Regions from separate parts of the Homo sapiens genome. Here regions 2, 3 and 4 are each reported to be linked to region 1. Evidence: microRNA targets listed by miRTarBase, many of them from high-throughput screens and not tested one by one. Region 1 holds a microRNA gene; each other region holds the end of a gene's coding sequence.
What was found. The annotated mature microRNA hsa-miR-4701-3p reads AUGGGUGAUGGGUGUGGUGU and lies in region 1 at 2,563-2,582, opposite strand. An mRNA with a match to its seed (bases 2 to 7 or 8) in the 3' UTR can be bound and repressed. Matches are read on the target gene's strand: a 7mer-m8 pairs with bases 2 to 8, a 7mer-A1 pairs with bases 2 to 7 and ends in A, and an 8mer does both.

Region 2: the mRNA of PPM1K is a reported target of hsa-miR-4701-3p. Seed matches in the 3' UTR shown: 7mer-m8 at 1,180-1,186.
Region 3: miRTarBase lists SMARCA5 as a target of hsa-miR-4701-3p. Seed matches in the 3' UTR shown: 7mer-m8 at 3,456-3,462.
Region 4: miRTarBase lists PPIL4 as a target of hsa-miR-4701-3p. The part of its 3' UTR that is shown has no 7-base or 8-base seed match.

Annotation. Positions count from the first base shown.
Region 1 is chr12:48,769,418-48,775,559 of GRCh38, forward strand. It overlaps MIR4701 (microRNA 4701), which reads right to left and starts at 2,620; the gene lies at 2,558-2,620. It overlaps ADCY6 (adenylate cyclase 6), which reads right to left. Exons shown (of 22, transcript NM_015270.5): 11 at 5,886-6,033; 12 at 5,540-5,637; 13 at 5,274-5,361; 14 at 4,985-5,101; 15 at 4,523-4,681; 16 at 4,052-4,230; 17 at 3,091-3,126; 18 at 2,878-3,007; 19 at 2,293-2,556; 20 at 1,349-1,553. It also overlaps a transcript of SPMIP11 not described here.
Region 2 is chr4:88,257,882-88,264,023 of GRCh38, forward strand. PPM1K (protein phosphatase, Mg2+/Mn2+ dependent 1K) reads right to left here. Exons shown (of 7, transcript NM_152542.5): 7 at 1-4,845. The coding sequence ends at 4,714. Among named protein-coding and RNA genes, the nearest start is that of PPM1K, 24 kb to the right of the region's middle.
Region 3 is chr4:143,552,232-143,558,373 of GRCh38, forward strand. It overlaps SMARCA5 (SNF2 related chromatin remodeling ATPase 5), which reads left to right. Exons shown (of 24, transcript NM_003601.4): 24 at 888-5,255. The coding sequence ends at 953. Among named protein-coding and RNA genes, the nearest start is that of SMARCA5-AS1, 40 kb to the left of the region's middle.
Region 4 is chr6:149,500,777-149,506,918 of GRCh38, forward strand. PPIL4 (peptidylprolyl isomerase like 4) reads right to left here. Exons shown (of 13, transcript NM_139126.4): 13 at 3,719-4,928. The coding sequence ends at 4,677. Among named protein-coding and RNA genes, the nearest start is that of ZC3H12D, 19 kb to the left of the region's middle.

The DNA.
Region 1 (6,142 bases):
AAAAAAAAAAAAAAAAACCCAAAAAACAAATAAAAATACCCAAAGACCTGAGCACCTCAGTTTAGGAGCTCCCCTGAGTCAAGACAGCCATGCTATAACAGTAATCTCCTGAATGCCTATTCCATGTCAACCACTCTAGTAAGCATTTTACCTGGCTTCATCCTTTCTTTTCTTTTTTTTTTTTTTTGAGATGGAGTCTTGCTCTGTTGCCCAGGATGGAGTGCAGTGGCACAATCTCAGCTCACTGCAACCTCTGCCTCCCAGGTTCAAGAGATTCTCCTGCCTCAGCCTCCCGAGTAGCTGGGATTACAGACATGTACCACCACACCCAACTAATTTTTGTTTTTTTTTTTTTTTTGGGGGGGACAGAGTCTCGCTCTGTCACCCAGGCTGGAGTGCAGTGGCACCATCTCGGCTCACTGCAAGCTCCGCCTCCCGGGTTCACACCATTCTCCTGCCTCAGCCTCCCGAGTAGCTGGGACTATAGGCGCCCACCACCACACCCGGCTAATTTTTTGTATTTTTAGTAGAGACGGAATTTCACCGTGTTAGTCAGGATGGTCTTGATCTCTTGACCTCGTGATCCGCCTGCCTCGGACTCCCAAAGTGCTGGGATTACAGGCGTGAGCCACTGCGCCCGGCCTAATTTTTTTTTTTTTTTTTTTTTCAGTAGAAAAGGGGTTTCACTATGTTGGTCAGGCTGGTCTTGAACTCCCGACCTCATGATCTGCCCACCTCGGCTTCCCAAAGTGCTGGGATTACAGGCATGATCCACCGCGCCCGGCATGGCTTCATCCTTTCAACACCTCTAAAAGGTAGGTATTATTATCCCCATTTTATAGATAAGGTAACTGAAGCTTAGAGAAGTTAGAAGACTTCTCAAATAAGCCAGTAAATGGAGCAGCCAGAATTCAAACCAAATAGTCCATCTCTAGTAGCCATGCTATTAACCACTCCCATCCACCAGTTCATTTGAGAGGAAATACCTCTTATTGGACTGGTCACAGATAAGGACAGAAGTATTCAAGTTTATATAAACCTGATTTTTAATCCCAGCTCTGCCACTTACTAGTTGTTTGACCTTGGGCAAGTTATTTAATCTCTCTGAGAGTCAGTCTCTATCCAATGAAAGGCGATAATAGTATCAGGATTAAAATATGCTCAAAAATTTATAGGACAGTGCCTAATGATCTCTGTTCTTAATATCAGACTTGATATAGGAGGTCAGAGGGAAGAAAACCCCACAGGAGCCCTGATGGGAAATCTGTGATCCCATCCCCAGCCTATAATCCCAGCTTCACCTGGAAAAAGTCCTGGGAAAACCCGCCAAGCAACAAAGCCCTCTTACCAATCTTCATCTGGAAATTGTTGAAGGAGTGCTCATTGATGTGCTTCATCTGCTCCATGAGCCGCATGGCGTAGTCAGCCAGGGCAGTGATGTGGGAGCGGCCCACCTGATCGTAGGTGCTGGCGTTCAGCCCTGAGGCAGCCATGTAGGTGCTACCAATCGTCTTGATCTTTTCCAGCTGCCGGAACCGCTCCTCGCTGATAATCTGAACAACACAAGGAGACCTGGCTGTCAAGGCAAAGACCCCAGACCCAGCCCTGCCCCAACACTCATTTCTTGCCACGCCTTGGCTGCCTTCCCCACTTCCCTGTCTCAAGAGCCCCCTTCCAGCTGCTGCTATCAGTGTAAGACTGAGGAGCTGGGAAAACAGGCAGCCTAGGACTCCAGGCAGGACTTGGGCATACAGCTTCAGAAGGTCCCTCCAGTAGCTCACTCACAGAACACAGACCCACAAGTGCAATATTAAGCAATTTCTCCAATCCTTACCTTTTGGGATACTGAGTCCCAGAGTGAGCAAGTGACTTCCCTCCAGAACAGTGAACAGCCCATTCCTGATCTGGATGTTCAGGACACTACCTCACATTTTGCTTCAATTTTCTCTATTCAGAGGACCATCTTGCTTGGTTGGTCTCATGAGGTTCTGTCCACAGACTATTGCCTTCTTCTTCAGTGACATCCACCTGGTACCTATCCTATCCCCCTACAGATCAAGTCCTCCCCTGCTCCCCAACAGTGATGACCCTGCCCCACTAGGGCTGACCCCCTTGCTGCCTCTGACACCTTCATGGGTTCTTGCCTCTGCCTCCACTGTGCATACCCTTACCCCTGATGACTCTGGGTCCCATCAAATCTCTCTCTCTCTTCCCAGTTCCACTCACCCATTCCAATCCCTGGTCTCCAAGTACCCCCCACTCTCTGCCACCACCAGCCAACTGGAAAAGTACCTCATCAAAGTCAGCGATGATCTCGTTGAGCAGCCGCAGGCACTCGACACCCTCATTGTTTGCCTCCAGCTCCACATAGAACTCAGAGAAGTTGGCAATGGAGGCAAACATAACAGCCACACACTCACACGACTGATAGTAGAGTTCATCATTGCGGCGCTCCCGGGCCAGGAAGTGGGCCGCCACGTCCTTGGGCAGAATGTTATGCAGCAGCCTCCGGTTGTATGCCTGTAGCTCCTCCATCTCCTCCTTCTCCCCTGTTGCCTGTGGACACCACACCCATCACCCATTGCCCGACATTCACAAGGGGTAGGTGTGGTGGCCAAGGCTTGGAAGTGCGGATAAGAGGGAATCACATAGAGAAAGAAAGGCCCAGACAGATGAGGCCTAAAGAACAGGCAAAGGGGTAAAGGGGGCAGGTAGAGGATGGGGCAGGGAGTAAGGGATGGGCACAGAGAAGGAATGGAACCAGGGTGGGCCTAGGTGTGGCCTGAGCCTTAGCCAGCTAGCACAAGATACATTTCTGGCCTGGCCCAGGCTCCGCCCCTAGGTTCCTCCTCTTCCCCCAAAGGCCCACACAGTCACCTGTAGTTTCCAGAGGAAGTCTAGGCGGGCAGTCGACTCCACCTGCTGAGCATGCAGATACAGCGCCAGCGCAAACACCAGCAGAATCACAGGGGTCATATATTTGAGGGCCACCCTCCCTGCAGCTGGACTAAGGATAAGCAGAGACATGCTTGGTGTCTGAAGGAGGCATCTAATGGCTCTACCCTTTGCTGCCTCGGAGCCCTCACTTACCAGTCCAGCCCATCAAAGGTCTCATTGGAAGAAGCCCTGGTAAGAAGATAGAAGAGACAAAGTCATCAGTGCTTCCTGGATTGCTGGGTGGGCACATGGAAGGGGAGACAAGAGACTGCATTTACTGAGCACATACTGTAAGTCAGGCATTGGGCCAGGGCTTTTACTTACATTAATTAACTCATTAAGAGTAGAGGTTAAGAAAACCTCTGCTCTTAGAGACTCCTCTACTTACCAGCTATGTGACCTGAGACAAGTCGCTTAACTCTCTAAGCCTCCTTCCTCATCAGTACAACAGGGATCAGATCTAAATAATGTATGTAAAAGGCTTAGCACAGTGCCTGCCATATAGTCAGCCTTCCATAAATGTTAGTTACTATAATCTTTACAACTACCCTGTGATTTAGGTGACATTGCCATTTTACAGATGAAGAAATTGAGGCTCAGAGAAGCTAACTCACCTGTCTAAAGTCACACAGCTAATGAGCAGCAGAGCAGGGATTCAAACCCAGCAGAGACCAGAGGCTTTTTCTACTACAACAAGCTATGGCCACATATCAAAGGAATGGGGTTTTGCAGAGGAAAAGCCAGTGTGGTGTCCCAGGCAAAGCCCCCAAGCAGGAATCAGAAGCTTTGGTTCCTAACCAGAGCCCTGCCACCAAGCAGCTGTATGTCCTATAGGTGGTTAAGATGGTGGATGTGAAAGCACCATGCAAATGTAAGAGGGAATTTTTTTTTTTAATGTCTAGCCTAAAGACACAAGGATTTCCCAGGACTAGGGTTTCCTTGGGGGTAACTATTTGGGGTCACATGCTGGGAGCTCCTCCATCTCCTCCCTTTCCCCCACAGGGGTGTTGTGGCATTCCAAGGCACAAGGGGCATGGGCACCAGAGAGGCTCACAGTGACCTAGAAAGGTGAGGGAAGCTCCTGGGGTATTAAAGGACCTGAGAATAAACTCACAAGCCATGGACGCCAAGCAGTAGGTCATAGTTGTCAAAGATGGTGGCTGGGGGACCCAGCAGAAGCAGCACCAAATAGATGAGCCCCAAGACAAAGATCATGGCCAACTTCCCGATGCTGCTGATGTGCAGGAAGACAGAGCTGGCCAAGAGACTCAGCAGCATGTTCCCGATGAAGTACTGCGGGGGTGGCAGAGGCAGCGTTGGGTGAAGGCAGAGGCCACAGCACCCTTGGGCAGGGAGAGCCCTGCACTCTCCTGCCTGACCTAACCTTCCCACCACACCCCTCAAACCCCCATATCCTCCACCTTCCATGCCCAGCCCCTACAACACACCAGGGCCCCTGGTTGCTCCTAGTGTGGGAGACTCTGGTGAGTTCCTGGGTCCCCAGCGCCCATCACCAGGCCTGGCACAGAAGGGCCAATGTCTGTGCCAGGACAGCCCCCCCACCGCCTGAGCACTGCTCGAACACCTCAGGAAAGCTGCAGGTGGGCATGGTGCCCTCACACAGGGGAGCATCCAGGCCCAGAGAGTAATTGAGCTGCTGCAGGTGGCAGGCAGTGATGTCAGCAGGTGTTAAATTCAGCATCCGGGCTGCACAGCTCCGTATGGGGGTGTGGTTACAGGTGAACTGCAAAAGTGGAGGGGTATATCAGGGTAACCAAGGAGGGAAAGGGTTGCAAGGTACCTGGTGAAGCCATGTACCCTAACCTGGGCTATGCCCAGGTACCTTATACCCCATGGGCCTTAGTACTCACTCAGGGATGACAAGAGGTTGGGAGAACAAGGAAGGAGAACCGGAGTTAACCTTCCCCTATTCTGGGAGGGGGCTCCCTGAGGGCAGAAAATATGTCCTTTTCTCCGCTGTACTCCCAGTGTCCAGGACAGTGCTTGGCACAGAGCAGAGGTGGGAGAATTCCCACTGGACCCTTACCATGTTGGCAATGGCAGAAGTAAACACAAGCAGGACGGAAAAGATGCCAACTGCGGTGCTATGTGCCCGTGAGCGGACAATGCTGCGGGACAGACGTTGCAGGGCCTTAGGGAACAGCTAGAGGCATCAAGAGACCAAGAGTTGAAGGTTGTATCAGCCAAGGAGGAATGGCAACCAGGGATGGGGCCCAGTGGAAGAGGCATGGCCTTCTCCCTCTCCCCATGTGACCTCCTCCCTGTCTGGAGTCCAGCCTGCCCTCCCCAACAGCCTCAGAAATCCCCTTACGTACAGAACCACAGGAGTACACAGCACAGATCAGCACGGTGATTAGCAGCAGCAGGAAGATGCTGGCATAGATCCCAAGCATCAGGGTGGAGCTGGGGCAGAACAGGGCCAGAAAAATCATTTAATTCTGGAAGATCTGGGCATTCTTGTCCCACCCTCTGGAACAAGCAGGGATGCAGGCTCCAGGGATTGTGGGCTTGTGTGGGTATTTAGGAAGCTTCTGGGAAGTGGTGAAGAGAGAAGCTAAGAGAGGAAAGGCAGGGCTCTCACTGTGGGAAGATGAGAAGCTGGATGAAGCAGATGAAGCAGAAGACCAACAGGGCACAGGCAACGTAGGCTCCGAAGCGGGGATCCACCTTCCGGGAGTACTGAGGGAGAGGAGGCTGAGCTGAGTGCTGGGCCCTCCCTAAGGAAGGCAGGGACAGCAAGGACAGGGCACTACCAGGGGTCTCAACAGGGAGGAGATGCAGTTGGCTCAACTGATGAAATCCTCACCCTGCTCTGTGGTCCCTTCTCCATCCCCCAGAAACACCTGTGCCCTCACCTGTGCTCAGCCTTCCCTGCTGCGACCTGCCCCTCCCCCAGCCCTTGTCCTTCTGCCCTGTATCCCTCAAACCTTCTTCTCAAGATCCTCTCTCTGGAAGGTGAGCAGAAACCGGCGCACATGGTCCTTCCGCAGCTGATCAATGCTGCGGGCATCGATGGCACGGCTCAGGAACTCATCCACCTCATCCTCAGGGTTCAGGGCATCTTGGGTGCCCCGGCTGAGGGCAGGAGACATGGTTTCACCAGTTGCATGGGCATGGCCATGTGAGAAACAATGAAAGGAAAGGTATGGACAGCACCTGAGGGAGGGAGGGAGAGCCAGGGGGG
Region 2 (6,142 bases), not on the chromosome of region 1:
AATGAGTCATTCTTGGAAGTGGAAGAACTCCATGATTTCACAGCCTAGAACACTAAGTATGACCACCAACGCACCATTTCAACTATCTAACAACCAATGGGAGAGTCAATTGTTCTCATCCCAACTGCCAAAAGCAAAAGGCAGGCCATCACAAGTTGGCTTGTTCACCTTCTAAAGACATGACTTTATTTCTGCCTAAGTCATCTATATAAGCGAATCTAATAAATACAATAAAATGTAACCCAACAAAATTCTCATGTCACTTTTTACAGACATGGGTATATGAGAACCATGGAGGTGCTAAAGAAAAATAGAAGCATTTTCTTATTATCATATTACCATGAAATTAAATTTATGTCTGTTCTAAGGAAAGAAACTAAATGTCCTGTTTGATATTGATGAGTAGGCCTACTCATTCTCTACCAAAATCCTAAAAAAAATAAAAATAAAATTTCACTTAAAAAATAATTTCCTAGGAGGGCACAGTGCTGTAATCCCAGCAATTTGGGAGGCCGAGGCAGGTGGATCACGAGGTCAAGAGATCGAGACCATCCTGGCCAATATGGTGAAACCCTGTCTCTACTAAAAATACAAAAATTAGCCGGGCGTGGTGGCATGCACGAGTAGTCCCAGCTACTCCAGAGGCTGAGGCAGGAGAATCGCTTAAACCCAGGAGGCAGAGGTTGCAGTGAGCCAAGATCGCGCCACTGCACTCCAGCCTGGCGACAGAGCGAGACTCTGTCTCAAGAAAAAAAAAAAATTCCATCTTTTAGATTATGTGCTAATAATTCTCTTTTAAGTGTTGGAACAGGGGAAAGTTCACATTATAGAGTACAAAGGATCAAAATGGATCCCTCCAAAATGGACATCCCCCCAGAAAAATGCTTATAACTTTGAAACACTTAAGACATACAAAGATCTGGCCAGGTGCGGTGGCTCATGCCTGTAATCCCAGCACTTTGGGAGGCCGAGGTGGGTGGATCACTTGAGGTCAGGAGTTCGAGACCAGCCTGGCCAATATGGCAAAACCCCATCTCTACTAAAAATACAAAAAAATTAGCCGGGCACGGTGGCGGACGCCTGTAATTCCAGCTACTCGGGAGGCTGAGGCAGGAGAATGGCGTGAACCCAGGAGGCGCAGCTTGCAGTGAGCCGAGATCGTGCCACTGCACTCCAGCCTGGGTGACAGAGAGAGACTCCTTCTCAAAAAAAAAAAAGAAAAAAAAATACAAAAATTAGCCAGGGGTGGTGGCACGCGCCTGTAGTCCCAGCTACTCAGGAGGCTGAGGCAGAAGAATCGTTTGAACCCGGGAGGCAGAGGTTGCAGGGAGCCGAGACCGCACCACTGTACTCCAGCCTGTGTGACAGAGTGAGACTCCATCTCAAAAAAAAAAAAAAAGAAATACAAAATCTGTAACAAACGAACAGCTGATGGAGAACAGGACAGCATTTACTTCTGAATCTATAAAGTACTTAAGAACTTATACTTGTGGAAAATCACAATGACAATGAATATTTCACCAAATAGATGGTGGCAAATAGTTTGGCAACACATATTAGAAAGGTGATTTCTATACTACACATAAATGAAAGACAAACCGAACCACAATTGATGTTTTACTACATTAATGTAATTTACACTATGCCTATACCCACATGGCAAATTCAGTTATAACTGAAAAACTAGAGCAGTCCCTTTTTTTTTACTATGATTTGCATATTTTCCAGTATCCTAATACATGCATACTTATCTTTTATAGATTATAATAATCTACATTTAAAATTCCATTTTAATATTGTGGCATGAAAAATACAAACACCAATACAGTATGTTTTATGCTTACTCAAAGTTAACTGGCTCAGAGTTTTAAAAGCTTTCCCGGATAAAGCAGAGTCAAGTCTACCCTATATCCCCATCCTATAAATTCCTCTTTGTCGAACCTGGCAATCTCAGTGAGCTATGATTGCACCACTGCACTTCAGCCTGGACAACAAAGTGAGACTCTGTAACTATAAAAAACAAAAACAGACAAACTTGGCTATCTACCTCAATCCATCAATCACCCTCATGCCTTTGAACTTGACAACATCACTCCTCATCTTAGTTTTTAAAGTAAAAGATAGGAATAGTAATGTAAAGCATTCAAAACAAAAATGAAACCTGCATATTTGTTTATTTATTTATCTGAGATGGAGTTTTTGCTCTGCTGTCCAGGCTGGAGTGCAATGGCGCGATCTCGACTCACTGCAACCTCCGCCTCCCAGGTTCAAGCAATTCTCCTTCCTCAGCCTCCCCAGTAGCTGGGATTACAGGCACCCACCACCACGCCTGGCTAATTTTTGCATTTTTTGGTCAAGATGAGGTTTCACCATGTTGGCCAGGCTGGTCTCTAACTCTTGACCTCAGGTGATCCACCTGCCTTGGCCTCCCAAAGTGCTAGGATTACAGGCTTGAGCCACCGCGCCTGGCTGAAACCTGCATCTTCAGAATGTCATTTTTGTGCGTTAGTTTTCCTTTGCCTGTTGGTTTGGAAATTCTCCATGTTCCTAAAGGTAGCTTCCACATTTCTGTTCCAAGAACTGATTAGAAAAAGCAAGATGGTTTCCCGCTTTAGTTGCCTCCCTTTGGTTCCTCACCTCTCAGACAACAAACAGAATGTTAACAGTCTTTCCTGTGATGTTTTTCCTTCTTTCACCTAACTTCCCTTGAAAAAAAAAATCAAAATATTTATTTAGCACTTTTTTCAAAGGGCAATTCCTGATTAATATAGGCAGAAAAACTCAAGATTTATCTTCTTCCATTTCCAAAAAGGTAAGAAGATGTAAATATTTATATTGGGCCCTCTCCCTCCTCATACATTTTTACCCAAAGCTTAAAGAAAAAAAAAAAAGTCAACTCAAAACACAGTTGAAGGTATATACTACATCAACTTTTTCTTTTGTTTCTGCCACAGAATTCCATGTCATTCTTAAGATTCAGTATTTTTCTCACATCCTATTACTTTATATACAAATTGCCATATAGCAATTTTTAACCTATTTCCTCATCTGCTGATAATCACTGGGTCTCCACTATAAGAAAATTGCCCCTAGTTTGTCAAGAGTCCTTAAAAATAACGTATCAATAATTTAAAACTGGTGAAAGAGCTATGCAAGATTGTTCCCTTTAATTTTATATTACTCTAAAATATACATATGTACACATACTCACACATATAACAAATTTACATAGTTTGCAGAAATAAACTACGGAAATAATTCCAAATACACATTTAGAAATTCACATTTTAACAGCAAACTTACATGCAGATAAAGAGAAGTATAGTTTTATACTTCCTAAGTTACACAGCAAGCTGAAATGGAGAATGTTTTAATGGTCATTTTAGATTTATTCTTTCTCCTAAGTCTTAGAAAATGAGCAAAAAGGAGACATAAAACTCAAGCTATGTCTATAGCAGTATCAGTCAATGTGGTATTATTTTTATTAACAAATTATTCAATTGCTTACTCTATACAAAAAGTGATATACACATACTATAATACTATATGCAAAACACAAAATAGCGTTAGAGATAACAAATGAGAACTTCATACAAAATACTTGATTCCATCAGTATTTAACTTTTGACCGGAAGACTCAGCCTGTGCATTCTTTTCTGATATTAAGGAATAGTCACATTTTTACAGTATTCTTAACTACAGAAAAATAGGAATAAATGGAGGGGAGGGCTGATGAGACAGCTGAAATACACATTTATAAATATGTATACAATTTAGTAATGTCACATCATCTGAATTAATTTCTTTTCTTTCTTTTTTTTTTTTTTTTTGAGATGGAGTTTTTCGCTCTTGCTGCCCAGGCTGGAGTGCAATGGCATGATCTCAGCTCACTGCAACCCCCATCTCCTGGGTTCAAGTGATTCCTCTTTCCTCAGCCTCCCGAGTAGCTGGGATTACAGGTGTCTGCCACCACGCCCAGCCAATTTTTTTTTTTTTTTTTTTTTTTTTTTTGGATTTTTACTAGAGACAGGGTTTCACCATGTTGGCCAGGCTGGTCTTGAATTCCTGACCTCAGATGATCTACCCACCTTGGCCTCTCAAAGTGCTGGGATTACAGGCATGAGCCACTGTGCCTGGCCAAATTAATTTCTTTTGCATGGTTGCTTTCACCAGTAAGTGGTCCAGAATACAAAATATGGTAACAGAGAACTGTTTTCATACTTATTCCTTGGTACAGTTATTAAAAATAAAAACTCGCATTTTAGGATTAGGGAAGTCTGGAAAAAAATTTTTTTAAACTTGGAGATCACATATTGAATAGCTGTCAAAATTCAAACTGACTAGTTTTGAAGAACTTCAAAAACGTGTTCAAATGAATAAAGAACAAAAATGATCAAAAGAAACCCATAGCTGCCTAAGAGTCTTAAAAATTATTAATGTGACACTCTCATCTCTCATCAAGTGTATCCAAACCACTTCTCATTTGCTCTTTCCATTTAAAGACTCACAGTAGCTTCACTACACATATATTTATACTGAACATGTACAGCGGAACATAAATATGATGAGCATTTATGAAAAAACTACTATCTAAGTGGTTTACACTGACTTGTGCGCTGATCTAGTGAGTTAGGAGACCTTTTTGATCTTATCAGTTTCTTGACATGCTCAGTGAAAAACTGTTGCACAGAAACTCTAAGTCCCAGCTGGTAATCAGGCCCATCGTCCACTGGAGGCAAAGCTTCTGCTGAATGAGAAGTTGATTTCAGAGTTCTTATATTTTCCCCAGGCACCAAAAGGCACTACTACTGCAGTACTGTTATCCTCAGTACCGTACTGTATTGCCTGCAAGGTTTGGCAGGAAGAAAGAGAAAAACATTGGAAATCACAGTCTATACAAAGAGAAATCAGCCTTTCCTTCCCTTGGAAATACGCTTCCCCTAGAAAGCCAAACTGGTCTTATGTGCAGTTACTAACCTACTTATTTCACAATGGTTTGTGATTTTCACCCTGTATTAATGCCCACAAGGATTATTAAATTGCACACGGAATAACAGATGACCCAAAACAACCATATTAACTATATTCTGCTGTAGCAATTTTGGCAACAGAAACACCAGTGGACTAAGGGGCATTGGTATGCAGCTCCTGAAAATGAAGATACCTGTAAAGCATTCAGCGTAGGGAGTAACACACGGTGAGGACTTGATAATTGTTAGCTCTTACCAGGAATTCAATTCCCTTTAGGGAAATTTACCCTAATGGAATAAAAACCTTGGAAATTGAAAGACAAAAAAACTAGCCATAATCGTAAGAGAAATACAAATGGCTAATAAGCCTATGCAAATAGCTAACTCCACCAACAAAGAAAAAAGATAAAAATTTCTACACTAAAATTTGATTTTTCCATCTATCGAATTGGTAAGAAAAAAAAATATGGTAAGAATTTGGAAAAACAAACTGTAGAACATGCTAGTGTAAATTGGTATAGTATTTCTGGAGGATAATTTGGCAAACTTATTAAAAGCTCTAGAACATTGTGTATTCTTTCATCTAGAAATTTTATTTATTTATTGAGACAGGGTCTTATTCTGTCACCCAGGCTGGAGTGCAGTGGCACGATCTCGGCTCACTGCAGCCTTGACCTCCCAGACCCAGGTGATCTTCCTACCTTAGCCTTCTAAGTAGCTGACACCACAGGCATGTACCACCATGCCCAGCTAAGTAAAAAAAATATTTTTTTTTGTACAGACTGGGTCTCGCCATGTTGCCCAAGCTGGTCTTGAACTCCTGGGCTCAGGCAATCTTCCCATCTCAGCCTCCCAAAGTGCTGGCATTACAGGTCTAAGCCACCAAACCTGGCCTAAAGATTGTATTTCTAAGGGCTCAAGCAATCCTCCCACCTCATCCTCCCTCATAGCTGGGACTATACATGCATGCCACCACACCTGGATACTATTCCTAAGAATGAAACCTATTTCCTGAAGGAAACAGATATGCACAAATAGACATCAGAATGTTTATTACTGGGCTTCCTCTATAGAATGGAAAAAATAAACATAAACTAAATTTCTTGACCAGAGGAACTGTTAAATGAATTATGTATAAGAATAAAATGGAACACTATGCATTCATTACAAAT
Region 3 (6,142 bases), not on the chromosome of region 1:
TGTTGATTTTGTATCCTGCAGTGTCACTGAATTTGTTTATGAGTTCTAATAGTTTTTTGATGGAGTCTTTAGGTTTTTCCAAATGTAAGATTATGTCATTTACAAATAGGGCAATTTGACTTCTTTGTTTCCGATTTAGATGTCCTTTCTTTCTTTCTCTCGTCTGATTGCTGTAGCTAGGACTTCCTTGAAATACTTAAAAAGTACAAATTTAGCTTGACTGGGTTGTGTGGGAAAAATCACTTCTTGATGATATGGTAGTCCTTAATATGGGGCTTCGTGAAAATCAGGAAAGTATGTCTCGTAAATGTCAAGTGTGTACACATCTCATTGAGAATACAAGTTATAATTTTAGAATAATTTAAGAAACATTGGAAAAGCAGTGGTATTATGACTTTTACTGTTAGTCTCTAAGCTTTGATTATTTCAGTGATGTTTTAGCAATGTGAAGGCAAACACTTAAAGGGAAAAAATGTTATTTAATAATAGTTAATTTAATAAAAAATGGTTAATTTATAAAGTCATGAATAAATGAGTATCTCTGGATAATATTTGGTACTTATGTAACTGCCTTTTAAAAACTCAAGTGTTTCTTACTATTTTGGGAAGCTTGCATTTATTTGATATTGATCTACTACTGTTAATTGTGCATTAGTTTTATAACGTCATTATTAACATTAACATTTTTTATTCTGTAAGTAAAATAAGTAGGTAAGATTATTTGGAGGCTTTATAGTTTGCTTTGAAAGATTTATATAGCCTGGGGGAAAAGTCTCATACCTATTACTTTGTAGTAGTTGTTATTACTAAAGTGTTATAATGTGTCTGCAACTATATTTCATGTTTATATTAGTCTTGTGAAAAGTAATCCTTCTGTCTGTTTGTAGACACAGAAACGTAAAATGGATGGCGCACCTGATGGTCGAGGAAGAAAAAAGAAGCTGAAACTATGAATATGTTTTTGTTTCATAATCACTAACTTTAAACCAGTAGTTCTTTAATTTACGGGTCTTCATAAGATGTACTGTACAATGCTCAATTGTTATGTCATTTAAAGACATCAGGTTCATCTGTTTACTGAGCTAGAAACATAGTATGTAGTTTCACTTTTTTAAATGCAACAGCTGTGCTGAAATTTTTTTATCATTAACACTTGAAGTAATAAAATAGGCTTCATTTATTACTAAGTGTTTCATTTGATTTATTTTTCTATTGTAGTTCCATTTGTGAAGATTGTGACTTTTTGTTTATTAGCTATAATTTCTACACTTGTAAGGCTTAAAAACAAGTTAAAAAGAAAATTGCAAATAACATTTGTCCCTTTCAGTCTTCACCTAGTTGTGTAATTATTTTAATTCACTTTGCCTTTGCAGAAATTTGGGTATTTTCTTTGTAGTGCTATTGAGTCTCATCTGGAAAGATTATATAAATTGCATTCTCCTTGCTTATGTGGGTAGAATGGGAAAAGAAGGCAAGACAAAGTATACTTAAATTCTATGCATATTTCTGTTATGCTTTCTGTTTTTTTTAGTTGATTCTGAAATGAATATGCCCTATTCTTTTGAAAGAATGGCCTTTTAGTTGTATAGCCAAAGACATTTAGTATTTTCCGGTTCCTTAAGGTATTACTGTACCATTTTGTAAAAGGAATATTATTATTATTATTTTTAATTATTTGGTAAATATTTTGTCATATGACCTTCTGAAGCAGCCACAACTTAGATAATGTCAGAACTAAGGTGATTTTTTTTTTTTAATTTTGAAAGCCCAGCCAAAATGAGGTGTGAATTTGTCATACTGTTACATTGAAATTGGTAACAAAATATATCCCCTCCCATTTGGACTTTTAGGGTAAATGAAAATTTTATTGTATTTTAAAGTAGTTTCTAAGTGTTAGCAAGACTGACTATAATTCCAGTTTCTGTTTTCTATGGACAGACCTGATAAACTGGAGACCCTAAAGCAGGAATACCCAAATTATAGTGTCAGGATTTTAGCTGTACCAGAGGCCTTTATGTGCTACACATAATTTGTATAAAATTTTATATGTGCAGATTGGGTACATAAACAGTTCTCCATTTTTCTAAGGGAATGCAATAAATGTAGCATCGTGAATAAATATAACTTTTATAATCCGTAAAGTGGTCTTTTCTTTCCATTTCTTTAATTGTTTTCTCAATTTTTATTCACTTTTTCCTTTAGGACACATTTCCCTTAATTGGATATCTTTCCCTTAAATTTCTATTAGTAGTTGTTTTCATCTGCCCACATGTAATTGAAGATTTAAAAAAAAAATTTTGATACCTGCAGTATTACTAATACTGCTTAATTTCTTGAAATGTGGAATTGCTGCTGTTAATGTCAAGCAAAACGCAGTATTTATGGCAAATTGTAAAGTAATTTGAATTTAGTGCTACCTCAAAATTAACTTTTTAAATACTATGTTAGATTCTTAACAGTTAAAGGTCTAATACATGCATGAGGAATGGTTACTTATGAAAGGAAAAAGAATTTGTAAGAGTTATCACCTCAGTTTGGAAGAAATTGAAAAAATGTAAGGCTGAAGAAAACTTACGGAGGTCACAAAAGTGATGTTTTCAAGAGGAGGAGAAACTGGGAGGGAGATACACAGTGGAAATGCAAAATGAATCAAGTATAGTGGTAGCCCTGAGAGCTTAGGGACTCAAATGGAAACTGTGTGAAGGGAAACTCACTTGAAAAAAAAGCATGAACCAGCTAGGCCCTGCCACCACTGTGTTTGGCCAAGTTCACAAATCTGTTTTAACCTGTCACTTCCCTGTCACTTCTCTGGCTTTCCTCTCCCGCTAAGCTTTTGTTTCCTGGCAGTAATTAAAATCTTCTGTCAGTGCCACAGCTACTACTGCTACTGGAACTGCCTTAACCACTACTGCTACTGGAACTGCCTTAGCCACCTTGGTATCGTGGTTTGGCAAAGTATTGGCCTCTACCACCATAGGGCCCAGAGCTTCTGCCTCCAAAGTTTCCTCCCTTCATGGGTCCAAAATTTGAAGACTGATTGTTGTCATTGCCAAAATCATTGTAGCTTTTACCACCTCCAAAATTGCTTCAATCATTACCAAATCTATTATAGCAATCCCCACTGCCACCATATCCATCACCACCACCATGGCTGCCACCAAAGCCACCACGATCACAGAACTTGATGACTGTATTTGTGACTAATTGTATAATAGTTTCTGTTCTGTGGAAAGTAAAGCATTCCAACACAGGGTTTCAGTGTAGATTGTTTTGTTTTGTACCCATGCTGTTGATTGCTAAATGTTTTAATAATCTGATCATGATACTGAATAAATGTCTTTTTTTTTTTTTAACAACAAAGCATGAAAGATTGCTTAATTGTACATCTGACAAAGTGCTGGAGGCTATTATAAAGTGTAATTATTACTACTTTTAAGAGACAGGGTCTTGCTCTGTCACCCAGGCTGGAGTGCAGTGGTGCAATCACAGCTCACTGCAACCTCAAACTTCAGGGCTCAAGTGATCCTCCCACCTCAGCTTCCCAAGTAGCTAGGACTACAGATACCACGCCCAGCTAAGTTTTTTTAGTTTTTGTAGAGATAGGGCCTTGCTATGTTGCCCAGTCCGGTCTCAAACGCCGACTTCAGGCAATCCTCTTGCGTCAACCTCTCAAAGTGCTGGGATTACATGTGTAAGCCTACATTCCAAAGTGCTGGGATCATAGTTGTGAGCCTACACCACACCTGGCCTACATTTTGTTTTTCATAAAGTTGAGAGAAGCAAATCCTAAGCATAGAGTACAAGTTGAGCATCCCTAATCAAAAAATCTAAAATCAGAAATGCTCCATAATTTGAATGCTCATTAGGGCATTTCTGATTTTTGGATTAGGGATGCTGAACTGATAAGTATAATGCAAGTATTCTAAAGTCTGGAAAATGCTAAAAACACTTCTGGTTCCAGGCATTTCAGATAAGGATTGCTCCATCTGCCCTTTGAGTATTTAATATATGCCGATTGTTTGAACTAATCTGGATTTAATTATATAAATGATTATATAAATGATCTTTGGCTTAGTACCTTTCTTAATCTCGATCTTAAAAAGCATTGTAAAACACCCCTGTGGTTTTTCAGAAAAATTCTGAGTAAAAAATAAATTTCATCTTGTTCTATCCCTTTGAATCTAAAAAACAAATCTTTTTGAAAGGATGTGCTACTATATTTCAAACCAGTAGTTTTGGAGTAGAACATTGCTAAAAAAATGGGTACTAAGGAGGGTAATTTAAACAAAGTAGATTAATGACACAAGGTGGATTGATGAACTCATAAATCCAAATGAATGGAATGCTAGAAGACATGTATTAACGGAGTAGCTGTTACCAAAATATATACATATTTTGTATATGTACATAGCTGTTACCAAAATGTATCTTTGCCTGTTGGAATCTGATGTCAAGATCAAAGGTGAGGGCATCCCTCAGATGACAGATAATGGGCAAAATACATTCTTGGTGTGGAGCAGTGCTGCAGAATTAACTTCGCTGTGTACATCCCAGAATCGTTTTGGATCTGTTAAGGTTTTTATTAGAATGATTAAATAGGCTTTTGCAGCATTAACTTTACAGTAGTTACCAGAAAAGACTATGCTACAAGAACCAAAATTGAAGTAAGAAGAAAAAGACTGAAATGATATGATTCTAAATGAAAAAAATGAAGAAGTGGAATAGTTTCTCCACAGGCATAAGAGGCAAAGCATTGTTTCAGAAGTGGACTGGCACCTCACCTGAGATACTCAAGACTGGCAACATGGGTCTACATTCTTTGTTACCACAGATTCCCTTGTGTCCGGAGAGATTCCCTAGCTCTAATGACAGCTTTTTTGGGGGGTAATGAGGCTATGAGAAGATTGAGGATCTAGGTACTTGCCTTTAACTCTACAGCATACAAGGTGTGTGGCTCTTATCTCTAGGACACCAATATTTAATGTTGCATATCATGTATCTCCAGTACAAGAAGAAAGTTTATCAGAATTTAGTTAATGTTGGAAACTTTGTAATATAAACAATGTAAACACTACATTGACAAAAATATTTTATTAATACAAAGAATATGCATATAGTTTGCTTACTACAGAAATTCTTGTTTTTGATGTAGACAACCCAAAGGAGTTTTTATGTATATAGATTGTGAATAAATTGGGAAAAGAAATAGAGATAAGTAGAGATTATTTCACTTCATTAAACTTTTGAAGTCCTAATTTAGTTCATGTGATTATTTGTAAACTTTTCTTTATTAGTCTTCCTCAATCATTGAAGAACCCAGGATTCAAATACAATACTTAATGGAAACACTTTTTCATCCCAAACTAAATCCTGCCCTGAAAGCCGAATTCACTATGAAATCTGAGATGAAACTCCAAGGCTATTATGCTGGCCAGTGGAAGGTTGGTTCACCCCTCTTGAGGTGACATTAGGGTGGTCTGCAGACATCACTGGAGTGGACAAAGAGATGCCTGGGTGGTTGGGGAAAGGACAGATCATAGACAACAGTAGCCTCTTTCTAGAGCTCAGTTGCAATAAATACCACAGTTACTCATCAGACACATTGGCAGTTCTACTTATTCCCATGTTTCAAAACTAGAGAATTCTAGCAAGGACTAAGCACTGCTTCTGTAGACCATCGGTATTTCTCCATGGCTGTTTGAATTTTTGTCAAAGCTTCTGTGTCTCATGCACACTAGTGACTTTTGAGACAGAGTCTTGCTCTGTCACCCAGGTTGGAGTGCAGTGGTGCGATCTAGGCTCACTGCAACCTCTGCCACCCAGGTTCAAGCAATTCTCCTGGCTCAGCCTTCCGGATAGCTGGGACTACAGGCATGCACCACACCTGGCTAATTACTGTATTTTTAGTAGAGACAGGGTTTCACCATATTGGCCAGGCTGGTCTCGAACTCCTGGCCTCAAATGATCTGCCTGCCTCCGCCTCCCAAATGTTGAGATTACAGGTGTGAGCCACTGCATCTGGCCTGATGCAGATTGATAATTTCTTGAGTGAGGCAGTGCTGTTGCCTAGTAGCAAGGCTTAGCTGGGTGAGACATTACTAGCTGCCTTCAGAAGCGGATCTCTGCCCTGAAGTTTACCAGC
Region 4 (6,142 bases), not on the chromosome of region 1:
AAAAAGTTAATAACCTGAAGTCAGGGGTTTGAGACCAGCCTGGCCAACATGGTGAAACCCCATCTCTACTAAAAATACAAAAATTAGCCGGGCATGGTGGCGCACACCTGTAGTCCCAGCTACTTGGGAGGCTGAGGCAGGAGAATCACTCGAACCTGGGAGGTAGATGTTGCAGTGAGCTGAGACTGTGCCACTGCACTACAGCCTGGGCAACAGAGTAAGACTCCATCTCAAAACAAACAAACAAACAAAATGTAAATAAATATCTTTTAAAGGTTTTTAAAATTATTCTTTCCAGAATTACATATTTGGGATTATGATTATCAGGGTTTCAACCTTCATGATCATGGCATTTGGGATTATGTATTTCCGGATTATGAGTGGCTCCCCAAAAGGCTACATAATACAGAATTCCACTTATATAAAATCCTTGAAATGACATAATTATAGGAATGGAGAACATATCAGTGGTTGACAGAGGTGAAGGAGAAAACAGAAGTGGCAGGGAAGTAGACGTGGCTATAAAAGGACAGCAAGAGGGGTCCTTGTAGTGATGGAAATTTTCTGTATCTCCACTGTGTCCATGTCAGCATCTTGGTTGTGATACCATACTAGAATCTTACAAGATGGTATCACTGGAAGAAACTAGGCAAAGGGTACACAGGTTCTCTCTGTATTATTTCTTATGATTGCATGCCAATCTACAACTGATTTCAAAATTGAAAGTTTAACCACAGCAAAAAAGCAATCAGAAAGAAAAGTCACATTATATCCAAAAGAATGACATTTGGAATGACAAAAGATTTCTCCCCAGTAGTAACAAAAGTAAAAAGATAGTAGACTAATTCTTCAAAGTACTGGGGGAAAAAAAGACACACCTCAACTTAGAATTATGTACATATAAAATCAACTTTATAGAATGAATTGAAAATACTTTTGATAAATGTAAACTAAGAGTTTGCCATCAACAGATGTCACTAGAGGAACATCAAAAGATGTGCTTCAGAAAGAAGGAAAATTATCCTAGGTGAAAGGTCTGAGATGTGAGAATAATAATGAATAAACAAACACTTCTAACATATAAAGTAAATCTAAACCAACAATTATCTGTACAAAAACAGTAATAATCACAAGGTCTAATTTTTTTTCTAACAGATGGTGTCTCACTATGTTGCCCAGGCTGGAGTACAGAGGCTAGTCACAGGCACAATCGCAGTGCACTGCAGCCTCTAACTCCTGGCCTCAAGGGATCCTCCGGCCTCAGCCATTCAGGAGCCAGAACTACAGGTGTGCACCACTGAGTCCAGCTCAAGGTCTAATTTTAAGGTGAAAAATCACAAGCTATAACTAAAATACTGAATGATTTTAACACGAAAGTTGCAAGAGGGGTGACTTGGAGAGTTCCAAGACTCTCAATTAGAGAGGAAGATAAAGATATAACATTATACTTTTTAAGTACGGATGTAATATTCCAAGGAAATTCCCCCAAAACAAAGAAGAGGGGGCAGAGGGGTGAGGGTGGAATTAAAAAACATTTTTGATTCCAAAAGAAAAAAAAAGAGTGGAAGAAAAAAACATAAAAAGCACAAAATAAGGTGGTAAGGAATAAATGCAAATACATCAGTACACATAAAAATGCACTCAACTAACCAGTTAAAGTTCAGATTAGATTTAAAAATAATTGGCCGGGTGCAGTGGCTCATACCTGTAACCCCAGCACTTTGGGAGGCTGAGGTGGGCAGATCAGAAGGTCAGGAGTTCCAGACCAGCCTGGCCAATATGGTGAAAACCCTGTTACTAAAAAAAAGAAAAAAAAATTAGCCAGGCCTGGTGGCAAGCACCTGTAGTCCCAGCTACTCAGGAGGCTGAGGCAGTAGAATCGCTTGAACCCAGGAGGTGGAGGTTGCAGTAAGCTGAGATTGCGCCACTGCACTCCAGCCTGGGTGACAGAGTGAGACTCCGTCTCAAAATAGTAATAATAATCATCATCATCATCATCTAGCTATATGCTGTTTATGAGACACACTAAAACATAAGGACATTCATCAACAAAGCAGGATAGAAAAATCTAGCTAAACTATGCGCAATGCTATCAAAAAATAAAAACGTCAATGAAAACAAATTCCCAGAAAAATGTAATAAAAATGACTAACATTAAAGAAATAGAAAGGCTAATAATTCTATAATTTTTGAAACCTAATCAATAGTTAAGAAATTTTCTCACAAAAAAATGCAAAGTTCAGACAATTTTATAGGCAAGCTCTATCCAGCTTTTAAGGAACAGATTAATTTAAATGTTTTTCTTTTCTTCCAAGAGAACAGACAGAGGGAAGGAGAGAGAGACAGCACTCCTTAACTTATTCTTAGTATCCACAATCTATTAAGTATAAAAAGACAACAATCTACTACTATATAAATGGGCAAAAGACATGAAACAAGCTTTTCAGAGAGCAATAAGGAATGAATAATAAACATGGGAAAAGATGCTCAGCCTCATTAACATTTAGGAAATACAAAGTTAACTTCCACTCTAGTCAAAATGGAGTAGCAGAGGCACGATTTACCTTCTCCACCTTAAATTAAAACCTATATAAAATGTATACAAGGAAGTTTTTCAGATGTTAGACAAAAGCCAGTGCAGGACAGTGACTCCTGAGAGATGGAAAACAAAGAAAGCCCTATAATTGCGCAAGCTTCTACATGGGGTTTCTAAGCTGTGGCACTAAGGCTAGGGAAGGGAACCTCCCTGGGTAGAGAATTTAGGGGAGCCAAGGTAAGATTTGCAGGGCAGAATATTGGGTTTCCCTTAAGTCTTCAGCTAAACACCAAGCAGTGTATGCATGTGAGGTAAGGAACAGGAGATACAACTGGGAGCTCAATAGGGTTCAGAATATTTCATGTTCCCAACAGACAGAATGCAGAAACCGTGTAACCAGGAAGATTATTCAGAACGGTATTACCTTCGTAGTGGGTCAAATTAGCCCTAAACTAAAGGCTGTCCCAGTCCTGTCTTATTAAGCTTAAAAGCAAGCTATAAAATGATCGGATTGTTTCCAAGTAACTTTATGTCCCCAAACAGAGTTCAAGATACTTAAAAGAACTCCAGCACCCAATATTAAAAACAGAAATTACCAGGCATGTAATGAAGGAAGTTACAATCCAATATGGGCAGGGTGGGGGTTGGGGTAGGGTGGGAATCAATCAATAGAAACAGACCAGAAATGATGCAGATGACAGAATGGGCAAGCACACTGAAAGAGCTATTATCAATACACTCCAGATGTTGAAAAAAAAAAAAATAGAGGAAGGCATGAGCATGTGAAGGAGACACATGGGAGATAAAGACCCAGACAGAAATTCTAAAGACTAAAAATATGTCGGAGGTGAAAAATACCTGGATACGATTAAAAGGAAATTAGATACTTTAGACAGAAAGATTAATAAACAATGAGGACACAGCACTGGAAAGTACCCAACATGAAACACAGAGAGAAAAAGGCTTTTTAAAAAGCTGCACAGAATCAGCACACTGGGAGAAAATTCTGAGGGGCCTAACGTACATCCAAGTCATCAGAGCCCCAGGAGAAGCATGAGAGGAGCAGAGAGAAAACCATAACAGAAGAAAAAATGCCCCCCAATTTCCAAATTCTATGAAAACCATAAACCCACAGGTAAAATAGCTGCAGCAGCAGAAACGTGAAAAAAAAACTACAGCAAGCACATCATAATCAAACTTCTTACAACCAGTGACAGAAAACCTTAAAAGCAGCCAGGAAAAAAATGACATCTTACACATGGAAGAGCAGAGATAACAGTAATCTTGCTGGAAATCACAGGTAGATACCACTTAACATCCACTAGGTTGGCAAATTTTTAAGTCTGAACTTAAGTGTTGGAGATGCTATGAAACAAAGGTAACTCACAGTGCCAAGAGAGGTATAAACTAGTACAGTCACTTCAGAACACAAATTTGGCATTATTTTATCAATATATCAAGCAATATAACTGCTAGATACAATGTTCACAGCAGCATTGTTTCAACAGCAAAAACAAATAAACAAAACTCAAATGTCCATCAAGAATGAATAAGTTGTAGTATATTTATATAATACTATATAGCAATAAAAATGAAAGAAAGTCACAGAAGTAAACATTTTGCCATTTATATAAAATTCAGAAACATACAAAATTAACATTTCACTTACAGATACATACGTATGTTGTAAAACTATAATAGACAAATGACAAACACAAAATTCCAAATAATTATTTGAGAGGGAGAGGGCCTTAGGGAACTTCTAAAATGTCGACAACATCTGTATCTTAAGCTGGCTGATGAGTACACAGATATTTACATTTATTATCCCTTTATATATACGTTTATGTATTTTTGTAGTATGAAATACTTCATTAAAAAAAGAGTGAAAATGTAAGACTTCAAAAATGAAGACTACCATTTATGTATAACAATAAAATTAGTGTAAAAAAGTATACAAAGAAAATGTTCAATTCTTTATCTTTCCGTGCTCTATATAATCAGTATTAATCTAAAGACCATAATCCTAGTATGAAAAAAATAACAAGCTTTGACACAAAATCTAAGCATCTGCTTTCCTGGCACTCTTAAGTTAGACAAGAGTAAATATGTTAGCCTCTCAATTCTGCCTCTTCATCTTTCATCTATACTTAGATTTTTCTTTATCTTTGGACTTCTTTGGACTTCTGCTTCGGTCTCTCTTTTTACTCCTTTCTCTTTCATAAAGATCTGTTTGGTATTTTGATTTATGACTATTACTATAATGGCCATCCCTCTCTCGAGATCGGCTACGACTTCGGTTCTGAGTTCGGTCTCTCTTTTCACTCTTTTGTTTCTCCCAACAGCTTTCTTCTTCTTCATAGTGACCAAACCCCATTTCTCTATAGATATCCTGTCAAAGGAAGGGGGAATTACAAGTGAATCAGTAAAATAATCATTTTGTGGGCATTTTCAATTAATAAAACTTAGAAAAGTCTACCATTAGAAGGCTGTTATAACAGCTTAAATGTGAACACTACCACTAATGTCAAGAATCTTGTAAATTACAAAGCAATAAAATAATTCAGAAAAAGGTTTAACAACGTCATTGATTTGTATCTACTATTTTGGCTGAAACGAAGGATCAGCTTCAAAAATATGGAACTGAAATAGCTCAACTGAAATCAGAACATGTCTCTAGAGCAATCTGCAAAATCAAAAATTCTGATTATGTATAGTCTTATTCCCAGCTCCCCACCCTTCACTCCCCCAAAACGTGGTCCCATTATTGATCTGCAATGAAACTACTAAAATTCCCATAAGAATCCTATAAGAAGATATCATTGAAATAACTTAGCAGGAAGAGATCTTAGACAAGTCAGTAAGTCTTAAATAAGAAAATGGAGGCTGGATGCGGTGGCTCACGTCTGTAATCCCAGCACTTTGGGAGGTTGAGGTGGATGGATCACCTGAGGTCAGGAGTTCAAGACCAGCCTGACCAACATGGAGAAACTCTACTAAAAATACAAAATTAGCCAGGTGTGGGGACGCATGCCTGTAATCCCAGCTACTCGGGAGGCTGAGGCAGGAGAATTGCTTGAACCTGGGAGGCAGAGGTTGCGGTGAGCCAAGATTGCCCCACTGCACTCCAGCCTGGGCAACAAGAGCGAAACTCCATCTCGAAAAAAGAAAATGGATAATGTATACTTGGGTCTGAGCAATTAATTTTTAAAGTGTTTTATTTTATAACAGCTCCTCTCTAGATGTTCAAATACATCTTCCATGTTTAGAAAGACAGAAGTTAGAGAGGAGAATTTTTTTTGAGACAAGGTCTTGCTGTCTCCCAGGCAGGAATGCAGTGGCACGATCATGGCTCACTGTAGCTTCAACCTCCCAGGCTCAACCGATCCTTCCCACCTCAGTCTCCTAAGTAGCTGAGACCACAGGCATGTGCCATCACACCTGGCTAATTTTTGTATTTTTTTGTAGAGACGGGGTTTCCCCATGTTGCCCAGGGTGGTCTCAAACTCCTGGGTTCAAGTGATCCCCTCCCACCTCGGCCTCCCAAAGTACTGGGATTACAGGCATGAGCCACCTCACTCAGCTGATTAGGCTTATGTCAAAATT